Linked DNA regions of Homo sapiens. The protein of the gene in region 3 purifies or fractionates together with the protein of the main gene of each other region. This does not show direct contact. Each region holds a gene or a part of one and is shown on either strand. Other genes may lie near its edges.

Region 1 (3,660 bases), on a different chromosome or scaffold from region 3:
AAAAAAAAAAAAAAAAAAAGAGATATTATAAGTACTTTACAGTGAGCTGTTTTGACTTAATAATATGTCTTATAAATACTTTCTAAGCAGAAAATGTAAACCTACCTTAGTTAACTACCACATATCTGCATGGACATACTATTACTGATTTAACCAATTTCACATTACTGGGCATAAAAGTTATTTTTGCTATTACAAACAATGCATTTTCTAATTTGAGTATGAACAAAATTAAGTGGAAAACTTTTGGTCTTCAGTCAACAACAACAACAACAACAAAATCCACTAGTGTATGGATAACATTAGTGAAAAAAAAAAACCCAGTTGTCAACCCAACCTGCAAAAAAGCACGGTTTTGATACCACTGAACTTCTTTTACTACAGGAATGAGTAAACAACCAACCTCCACTCATTTATTCTATTAATAAAAGCATGTACACTATTAGTATGCCTCGAATCCTAACATGTTTTATAAAAGGCTACCATCCAGAATACCAGCTACTAATATCTACAAAAGGAGTCAAAGACAATGGTCCTTGAACCCCTGTAACCACTATGATATAACCCAGGCATATCGTTGGGATTGCTCTCCTCCACATACACCATCTACCAAAACTGCCTATGGCTCTCCACAGAAACTCCATCTATCACAGGAAATTTGAGTTTTTATATGTCTAGAAATCTCAAAAATAAGAAATCCTACAGAGCTACAACAAAGACTTTTAACTAACCTCTTAGACCCTCAAATATTTGTGAGGTGGCTGGTAGAGAAGTGGGAGCAAGGAGGTTGAGGTAGAAGTGTAACTTTTTAAAAAATATATATATTTTTAAAGATGGGCGTCTCATTATATTGCCTAGGCTGGCCTCGAACTCCTGGGGTCAAGTGAGCCTCTGCTTTAGCCTTCCAAGGAGCTGGGACTATAGGTGTGCACCAATGCACCTAGCTTGAAGTGTAATTTTTAAACAACCACAACATTCCAAGACAAATCTTTCTGATTTCTGTTCTTTTAGTAATTCCCTAAAGCACAGCTTGTCTATTTCAAGAGTTAAATGTTCGTACTGTGCCACTAGTGACTGAAACACAGAAGCCAAATAATAATACTGATATTTTGAAAATGATGTATGTAATGGAGCTATTTTATTTTTTAAGAGTTAAGAATCATAAACTGTGGAATGAAATATATAAAGCATTTCAGATGTACAAATATATAAAACATCTAGTAAAACAATGCATTTACAAACATTAAACATTAAGATAAATTGCTATATTAAATACAATTAGTTTTCAAAAATAAAACTAAGCTACGAAAAACAAAAATAATGAGAATGAATTATTTAATCTTTGATATGGTTTGGCTCTGTGTCCCCACCCAAATCTCATCTTGAATTGTAATCCCCACATGTCGAGGGAGGGAGCTGGTGGGACGCAATTGGATCATGGGGTCAGTCTCCGCAATGCTGTTGTCATGATAGTGAGTGAGTTCTCTTCAAAGTGTTTAGCAGTTCCCCCCTCACTTGCTGTATCTCCTGCTGCCATGTAAGATGTGCCTTGCTTCCCCTTCGCCTTCTGCCGTGGTTCCTGAGGCCTCCATAGCCATGTGGAACTGTGACTCAATTAAATTTCTTTTCTTTATAAATTACCCAGTCTCAGGTAGTTCTTTATAGCAGTGTGAAAAAGGACTAATACAGAAAATTGGTACCAGGAGTTTGGGCCACTGCTATAAAGATGCCTGAAAATAAGGAAACAACTTTGGAACTGGGTAACAGGCAGAGACTGCAACAGTTTAGAGGGCTCAGAAGAAAGAAAGATGAGGGAGAATTTGAAACTTCCTAGAGACTTGTTGAATGGATTTGAACAAAATGCTGACAATGATATGGACAGTGAAGTCCAGGCTGAGGTGGTTTCAGATGGAGATGAGGAACTCACTGGGAACTGGAACAAAGGTCACTCCTGCCGTGCTTTAGCAAAGAGACTGGCAGCATTTTGCCCTGCCCTAGAGATCTGTGGAACTATGAACTTGAGAGAGATGATTTAGGTTACCTGGCATAAGAAATTTCTAAGCAGCAAAGTGTGCAAGAGGTAACCTGGCTTTTTTTGAAAGTGTACAGTCATATGCATTCATGAAGAGATGATCTGAAACTGGAGCTCATGTTTAAAAGGGAAGCATAGCATAGAAGTTTGAAAAATGTACATCCTGACCATGTAGTAGAAAAGAAAAACCCATTTTCTGGGAAGAAATTCAAGCCAGCTGCAGAAATTTGCATAAGTTACAAGGAGCTGAATATTAATAGCCAAGACAATGGGGAAAATGTCTCCAGGGCATTCCAGATATCTTCATGGCATCCCCTCCCAACACAGGTCCAGAGGCCTAGGAGGGAAAAATGGTTTCATGGGCCAGGCCCAGAGCCCTGCTGCTCTGTATAGCCTCGGGACTTGGTGCCCTGTGTCCCAGCCACTCCAGCTCCAGCTGTGGCTAAAAGGGGTCAAGGTACAGCTTGGGCTGTTGCTTCAGAGAGTGTAAGCCCTAATCCTTGGTGGCTTCCATGTGGTGTTGGGCCTGCAGGTACACAGAAGGCAAGAGTTGAGGTTTGGGAGCCTCCGCCTAGATTTCAGAGGATGTATGAAATGCCTGGAGGTCCAAGCAGAAGTCTGCTGCAGGGGCAGAGCCCTCATGGAGAACCTCTGCTAGGGCAGTGTGGAAGGGAAATGTCAGGTTAGATCCCCCACACAGAGTCCCCACTGGGACACTGCCTAGTGGAGCTGTGAGAAGGGGGGTCACCATCTTCTAGATTCCAGAATGGTGTACCATGTGCCTGGAAAAGCCACAGGCACTCAATACCAACCAGTGAAAGCAGCTGCAGAGGCTGTACCCTGTAGAGCCACAGGGGTGGAGCTGCCCAAGACCTTGGGAGCCTACCTTTTGGATCAGTGTGCCCTGGATGTAAGACATGGAGGCAAAGGAGATTATTTTGGAGCTTTAAGACTGAATGGCTACCCTGCTAGGTTTCGGACTTGTATGGGACCTGTAGCTCCTTTGTTTTGGCCAATTTCTCCCATTTGAAATAACAGTATTTACCCAATGCCTGTATCCTCATTGTTTCTAGGAAGTAACTGACTTGCTTTTCATTTTACAGGCTCATAGGCGGAAGGGACTTCCCTTGTTTCAGATGAGACTTTGGACTTGGACTTTTGGGTTAATGCTGGAATGAGTTAAGACTTTCAGGGACTGTTGAGAAGGCATGATTGTGTTTTGAAAGTGAGAACATGAGATTTGGAAGGGGCCAGGGACAGAATAATATGATTTGGCTCTGTGTCCTCACCCAAATCTCATCTTGAATTATAATCCCCACATGTCAAGGGAGGAACCTGGTAGGAGGTGATTGGATCATGGGGGCAGTTTCCCTCATGCTGTTCTCATGATAGTAAGTGAGTTCTCATGAGATCTGATGGCTTAAAAGTGTTTGACAGATCCCCCCTGCTTGCTGTCTCTCCTGCTGCCATATAAAACATGCCTTGCTTCCCTTTCACCTTCCTCCATGATTGTAAGTTTCCTGAGGCCTCCCCAGCCATGTGGAACTGTGAATCAGTTAAATCTCTTTTCTTATAAGTTACTCAGTTTCAGGTAGTTCTTTATAGCAGTGTGAAAATGGACTAATACA
Region 2 (2,839 bases), on a different chromosome or scaffold from region 3:
AAGTAAGGACAGTCCCTGAGCTGACTGCATTTATAGTCTAGTAGAGAAAACATAATCAAATAATCACAAATACATGACAGACCTGTATCACATGCATACTTAAAAACAGAAATCTGTAAAACAAACATGTTTCATTCTTTGATCTAAAATGTTACATTTCACGTCTGAACCCTAGCAAATATTGTATATTACTACACAAATTATATTAACCATACCTGTTATAAGACTGCACAAACAAAAACTAAACACTTTGAGGGAGATTAAACACTTCGAGGGAGTGAATGAAACACTTCGAGGGAGAATGTAATTTCTGCTTTACATACTAACTTTACAACCTAATTTTCAAGTAAGACATGACTCTATTGCAAGAATAAAATGGCACTTGTCATGAGTGCCAAAGAGTAAACATAAGGGCTGTGATACTGTATAACAAGGAGATTCTAATCTCATCTACAACATTAGAGAAGTCTTCCCCTTTAAATATCACGAGGTCAAAAGGATAATGTTAAGAGAATGAGCACATTTGAAAGCTGAGAAATAAAAATTAGGCTGTGTGGCTATGGCTTGTAAGTAAAGTGAACATGAGATAAAGCTGACAAGGTTTCAGAGGAAGATCACAGAGAGCTTCATAGGTCATCTTAAAAATTTGAATCTTTGGCTGGGCGCGGTGGCTCACGCCTGTAATCCCAGCACTTTGGGAGGCCGAGGCGGGCGGATCACGAGGTCAGGAGATCGAGACCATCCTGGCTAACATGGTGAAACCCCGCCTCTACTAAAAATACAAAAAATTAGCCGGGTGTGGTGGCAGGTGCCTGTAGTCCCAGCAACTCGGGAGGCTGAGGCAGGAGAATGGCGTGAACCTGGGAGGCAGAGCTTGCAGTGAGCTTGAGTGAGACTGTGCCACTGCACTCCAGCCTGGGTGACAGAGCAAGACTCCGTCTCAAAAAAAAAAAAAAAAAAGAAAAAAGAATCTTTAGGAAAAAAATAGTAAAAATTCAAAAATAAGCAAAAATCAAATAAAAATAAAGGAATAAAGATATTAATGGAGTTAAATCCTCCAACATGATACTAGGATAGGTTTTTTTTATACCTTCCAGAAGATTTACTACCTTCCCCCTAAAATAAGGTATTAAAAAGTAATTTTATGGTAACTAAAGTGTTAATTATCAAATTTGCATTATAATGCAATGCATTCCTTTCAATTATACTTAATTATTAAAAATGTCAAAAAGCAAGACCATTGAGTCATGCAAATTGGAAGGTTAAAAAAGAAAATCTTCGTTTGAAAATCTGAAGTCTTAATATACACTCAAAAACATTTAATATTGACAAAAATACAAAACTTCCGTAGGAAAAAAATTCTTAATTTAACTCATTTAAAAAAAAAAAAAGTAAATCCTCCAAAATTAGGTTTTGATGCTGGAAGAAACATTAAAATATGATGACAAATCAACTCTTTTCTCTTATGGAACCCCATATAGCATGAAATGTAGAAAATCCCTATACCTTTTGATCCAGAAATAAATTATGTTCACATAAAAATTTACATGGCTGAGAGCAATGGATCACGCCTGAAATCCCAGCACTTTGGGAGGCTGAGGCAGGTGGATGACTTGAGGCTAGGAGTTTGACACCAGCCTGGCCAACATGGCGAAACCCTGTCTCTACAAAAACTACTGCAGTGGTTCAGGCCTGTGGTCCCAGCTATTCAGGAGGCTGAGGCAAGAGAATCACTTGAACCCAAGAGGTGGAGGTTGCAGTGAGCTGACATCGCGCTACTGCACCCCAGCCTGGGCAACAGAGTGTGACTCTGTCTCAAAAAATTAATTAATTTTAAAAAGAAAAATTAATAATATTTGAAAAATCACAAAGGGGCAAACCAAACATTTTGACCACTGACTGACCAGCACTTAATTTTAACATAAAATTGTAAGTCAAATTTTTTTTTTTTTTTTTTTTTTTGTGAGACAGTCTCGCTCTGTCTCCCAGGCTGGAGCGCAGTGGCCCAATCTTGGCTCACTGCAAGCTCCGCCTCCCGGGTTCATGCCATTCTCCTGCCTCAGTCTCCCAAGTAGCTGGAACTACAGGCGCCCGCCACCACGCCCAGCTAATTGTTTTTTTTGTATTTTTAGTAGAGACGGGGTTTCACCGTGTTGGCCAGGATGGTCTCAATCTCCTGACCTTGTGATCCACCTGCCTCAGCCTCCCAAAGTGCTGCGATTACAGGTGTGAGCCACTGCGCCTGGTGTCAAATATTACTAATATAATTGAGGTAAAAAGAAATCTTAGAAAAAAAATGTCAGCTGGTTTAGCATGGTGGCTCACGCCTGTAATCTCAGCACTTTGAAAGGCTGAGGTGGCTTGATCAAGTCCAGGAGTTCATGACCAGTCTGGGCAACATGGCAAAACCTCTTCTCTACAAAAAATACAAGAAAATAGCCAGGTGTGGTCATACACACCTGTAGTTGCAGCTAATTGGGTGGCTGAGGTAGGAGTATCACCTGAGCCCAGGAGGTTGAGGCTGAAGTGAGCCATGACTGCACCACTGCACTCTTGCCTGAATAACACAGTGAGACCCTGTCTCAAAAAAAAAAAAAAAGCCACTTTTGCAAAGAATAAAATTTACAAAAAAAGGTTTAATAAAACCCTACATATGTGGGTTTTAAACATGGAACAAAAACCAAGATATGTTATATAAATTTTAATGAAAATTATACGTAGTAAACACACATGCTTTAAATGCACATATACTATTTGCCAATAATCACTGAATTATTATTATGAGCATACATTAGCTCTTTTCAAAGTAGTACTTTTTTCCAAACAGCACTTTCAAAGT
Region 3 (3,660 bases):
ACTTAGTTTTGTCATCTGTAAAGTAGGGAAAATTTTAGTAGTATCGTGAGGATGAAAGGTAAAGGCAAAGTACTTGGATCAGGGCCTTCCATTAGTAAGTATTCAAGAAATATTAATAACATTCATAAAAATAATAAGCACATTCTTATGTTGCCTATGAAATCAGGTCCTTCTGCATTTGGACACAGGACAAGCTGGCATGGAAACTTTCAATGGTTCATTCGTTCATAAAAGCTCTTAGTGACTTACCAACTAGTGCAAGAGACAGTATTTTGGAACAAATTGGCAAAATTATTTAGATGATCATATGCTGTATAATCTCAGTGGTGTGAAAAAAAAATGGCTCATTGTAAACCAGTGGTTTTCTAGGTGGAGGAATTTGAATAAAAAATAAGGTTTCTACTCAGAAAATAAAGCCGAGCTAAATTAGAGATGACAGCTCATCTGGACAAAGATCTTTACAAGCATCCCAGTAGAACAGGGAAAAAAAAACATAAAGTAATGAAATTGGAAGAAATGTATTTACACTTAACTTTTGCTTTTTTAAAAATTTTTCTATGTCTCAATATATTTTTTATGGTAAGACTCCTGATATGAAAAGAATTATTATGTTCACTATAATACAGATGCATTTAGACACAGTCATATATTAAATTAATATATCAAATTAGTTCCACAAATGGGAAATCCTAAAGATAAGCCTTTGCATACAGAAATTTGCACAGTTTTGACTGAGCTGTCTAATTAATTCGATAAATATTTACTCAGGAAGAAAACAGAGGTGAATATAACAGCATCCTTCATATTTAGGGGTATTTAATATTAATATAATGAGAAAAAGTGAAGTGCACTTTGGTAGAGATAATGTTTATTAAACACTTAAATGTCATACACTTTGTTAGATGTTTACACAGATCAGCCCATTTAATTTTCACAACATCCACCTGTTACAACATACATAAAGTTAACGAAGAAGAGTGCTCCATGACTGAAGACTGGGAAGCAGGTGACTATTAAATGTGATTAAATACAACTCAATGTGATATATGACCTCAGCATGAACAGCTTCAGGACAGAGGAGGAGACATGAGATTGAAGTAGACAGAAAGGAACTGGATAATAAGGAAATGAAAGCCAAGAGCCACACATTTGTGTTGGACATTAAAAGAGATGGGTTGATTGTAAAAATGAATGCAAACGAGGTCACGGTGTCCACTCTAAGAAGCTTATAAAGTCCTTGCTATCTCCTTTCAGTGCATTTGAGAGAGAGAATTTGGTGTCCTTTGCACAGTGATGTTTATTGGGGTTAGGGTCACGAAATACTTTTTTTATACTGACAGACACTGTCTAAGTCCTAAACATTGTAACATTTCCAGAAGATAATTCTTGGACTAATGAATAATAATCTATCTTTCTCACTTATGACATTTAAAACCAAAGTGGAGAATCAGGCCACAGTATTACAGTTCAGAGTGAATGAAATCTACATAAATTATGTAAAACATTCACTTTCATTTGTTTTTCTTTTATTTTTATAATTATAAGTTGTGAAGTAATTTATTCTACCAATAAATATTCTGTTCTGTCTTCAATAACAGAATTGGATGGATGGGCCTAAGAATTACATTAAAAATGATACCAAAGTGGTATTACGTATAAAATACATTTTAAAGTTGAATTTGCAAATGAGCATTATTCCTGTGTTCTCTTTGTACTGTCCTTAATAATATGCATGCCCTTCCTCATTTCACTGATATTGTGTGAAATGTACACCCAGGTACTTTCCCAGAATAAACAATGATAGATCTGTCAAGAAATCACAAGCTAAAGTCATTTTTTAATTAAAAAGATAAATAATTTATAGAATTAAACACACCAAATGGAAATTGTTGCTGAAAAGAGCTAGCTTGTGGCCTTTTTTAATATTCACAAGGGCCTATCGCTACATTTCTGCACCTGCCTGAGTTTTCGTTGGCCCCACATCATATACTTTGATGTATTTTATTTTCACTTTTTATAAAATTTCCCAACCTTTCATGATCATCTAGCAGTTAGGTTTCTAGTTTCCCCTGGCCATTATTTTGTCAAATTTATTCTCTTTATTAAGATTTGTTCCTCTCTTTTATGGCATTCAAAAACAGGTCTAGCCTGGGCAACAAAGTGAGACCCTGCCTCTGCAAAAAATAAAAATATTAGCTGGGTGCTGTGGCCTATGCCTGTAGTTCCAGCTACTCGGGAGGCTTCGGCAGGAAAATCCCTTGAGGCTGGGTGCAGTGGCTCACGCTTGTAATCCCAGCACTATGTGAGGCCAAGGCGGGTGGATCACTTGAGGTCAGGAGTTCCAGACCAGCCTGCTCAGCATGGTGAAACTCTGTCTCTACTAAAAATACAAAAACTAGCCAGGGGTGGTGGCATGCACCTGTAATCCCAGGTACTCAGGAGGCTGGGGGCAGGAGAATCACTTAAACCCGAGAGGTGGAGGTTGCAGTGAGCTGAGACTGCACCACTGCATGCCAACCTGGGTGACAGAGCGAGACTCCGTTTCCAAAAAAGGAAAAGAAAAGAAAAGCCCTTGAGCCCAGGAATAAAGGGTGTAGTGAAGCACAATTGAGTCACTGCACTTCTTGTCTCAAATGTGTGTGTTTGTGTCTATTCTTCCATTTAGTAGGCAACATACACATTTTTCATGCTCAATTTTAATACTTTAAATTTTAATATCAGCTTATTTGGCCTAATTCCTTTTGATATATTTTCTAATTAAGAGGTAAATATAGGGGGATTGTCTATCATTTACACCTTTAATCATCTGCACACTTTTAGATGGGGGAATAAAACATGCCAATCAAAATTAATCCACACATGCACAAATGTGTATTAGAAAATGTAAAGAAATAAAAAATACACAAAGTTTTAGCTCTTAGTCAATAGTCACATTTTGAGGATTACCTATTAGTATATACTGACTCAAGAGTATATACATATGTATATACATATATACATATATATTTATTTAATTTGGAGAAAGGGTCTTACTCTGTTGCCCAGGCTGGAGTGCAGTAGAACGATCACAGCTTACTGCAGTCTTGAACTCCCAGGCTCAAGTGATCCTCCAGAATGAGCCTCCCAAGTAGCTGGGATCGCAGGTGCATGCCACCATATCCAGTTAATTAAAAAAAAAAAAAAAAAACATTTACAGAGATAGGGTCTCACTATGTTGTTCAGGTGGGTCTTGAACTCCTAGGCTTAACTCATCCTCCTGCCTCAGTCTCTTAAAGTGCTAGGATTACCTGTGTGAACTACCACATCCAGCTGGGAGTATGTATCTTGATAGAAAGTTTACATTTAACTGTAATAGTCCATAAAATTTTAGTCAGGAAGCCTTGAAAATGGAATATATGATATATGTGCAATATCATGTCATTATTGTCAATATTATGTCAAATATGTAAAAGGAGTTTCACTGTTTTTAACTTACCGTCAGAAAGTGTAACCACTGTTATATCATCAGTAGAGACGCCCGGACCATAGCGATTATAAGCTAAGAATCGAAGACTATATTCGGTGAATTTTTTCAGGCCTTCCAGTTTATAAGATAGTCCATCAACCTCTATATTCTGGAGACATAAAACACCAAAACTGTTATCAAGGAAGCACATTAAA

What was found.
Region 1: the proteins of DCC (region 3) and EIF5A2 purify together in Homo sapiens (affinity purification with western blotting; one study listed by BioGRID and IntAct). This does not show direct contact.
Region 2: the proteins of DCC (region 3) and EIF4E purify together in Homo sapiens (affinity purification with western blotting; 2 studies listed by BioGRID, with this or other methods). This does not show direct contact.

The regions. Positions count from the first base shown.
Region 1 is NC_000003.12:170,895,029-170,898,688, forward strand, and holds part of EIF5A2 (eukaryotic translation initiation factor 5A-2), read right to left. Parts: intron 1-3,660. UniProt on the Homo sapiens protein: Translation factor that promotes translation elongation and termination, particularly upon ribosome stalling at specific amino acid sequence contexts.
Region 2 is NC_000004.12:98,881,455-98,884,293, forward strand, and holds part of EIF4E (eukaryotic translation initiation factor 4E), read right to left. Parts: intron 1-2,839. UniProt on the Homo sapiens protein: Acts in the cytoplasm to initiate and regulate protein synthesis and is required in the nucleus for export of a subset of mRNAs from the nucleus to the cytoplasm which promotes processes such as RNA capping, processing and splicing.
Region 3 is NC_000018.10:53,207,633-53,211,292, reverse strand, and holds part of DCC (netrin receptor DCC), read right to left. Parts: intron 3,615-3,660; coding exon 3,476-3,614; intron 1-3,475. UniProt on the Homo sapiens protein: Receptor for netrin required for axon guidance. Mediates axon attraction of neuronal growth cones in the developing nervous system upon ligand binding. Its association with UNC5 proteins may trigger signaling for axon repulsion.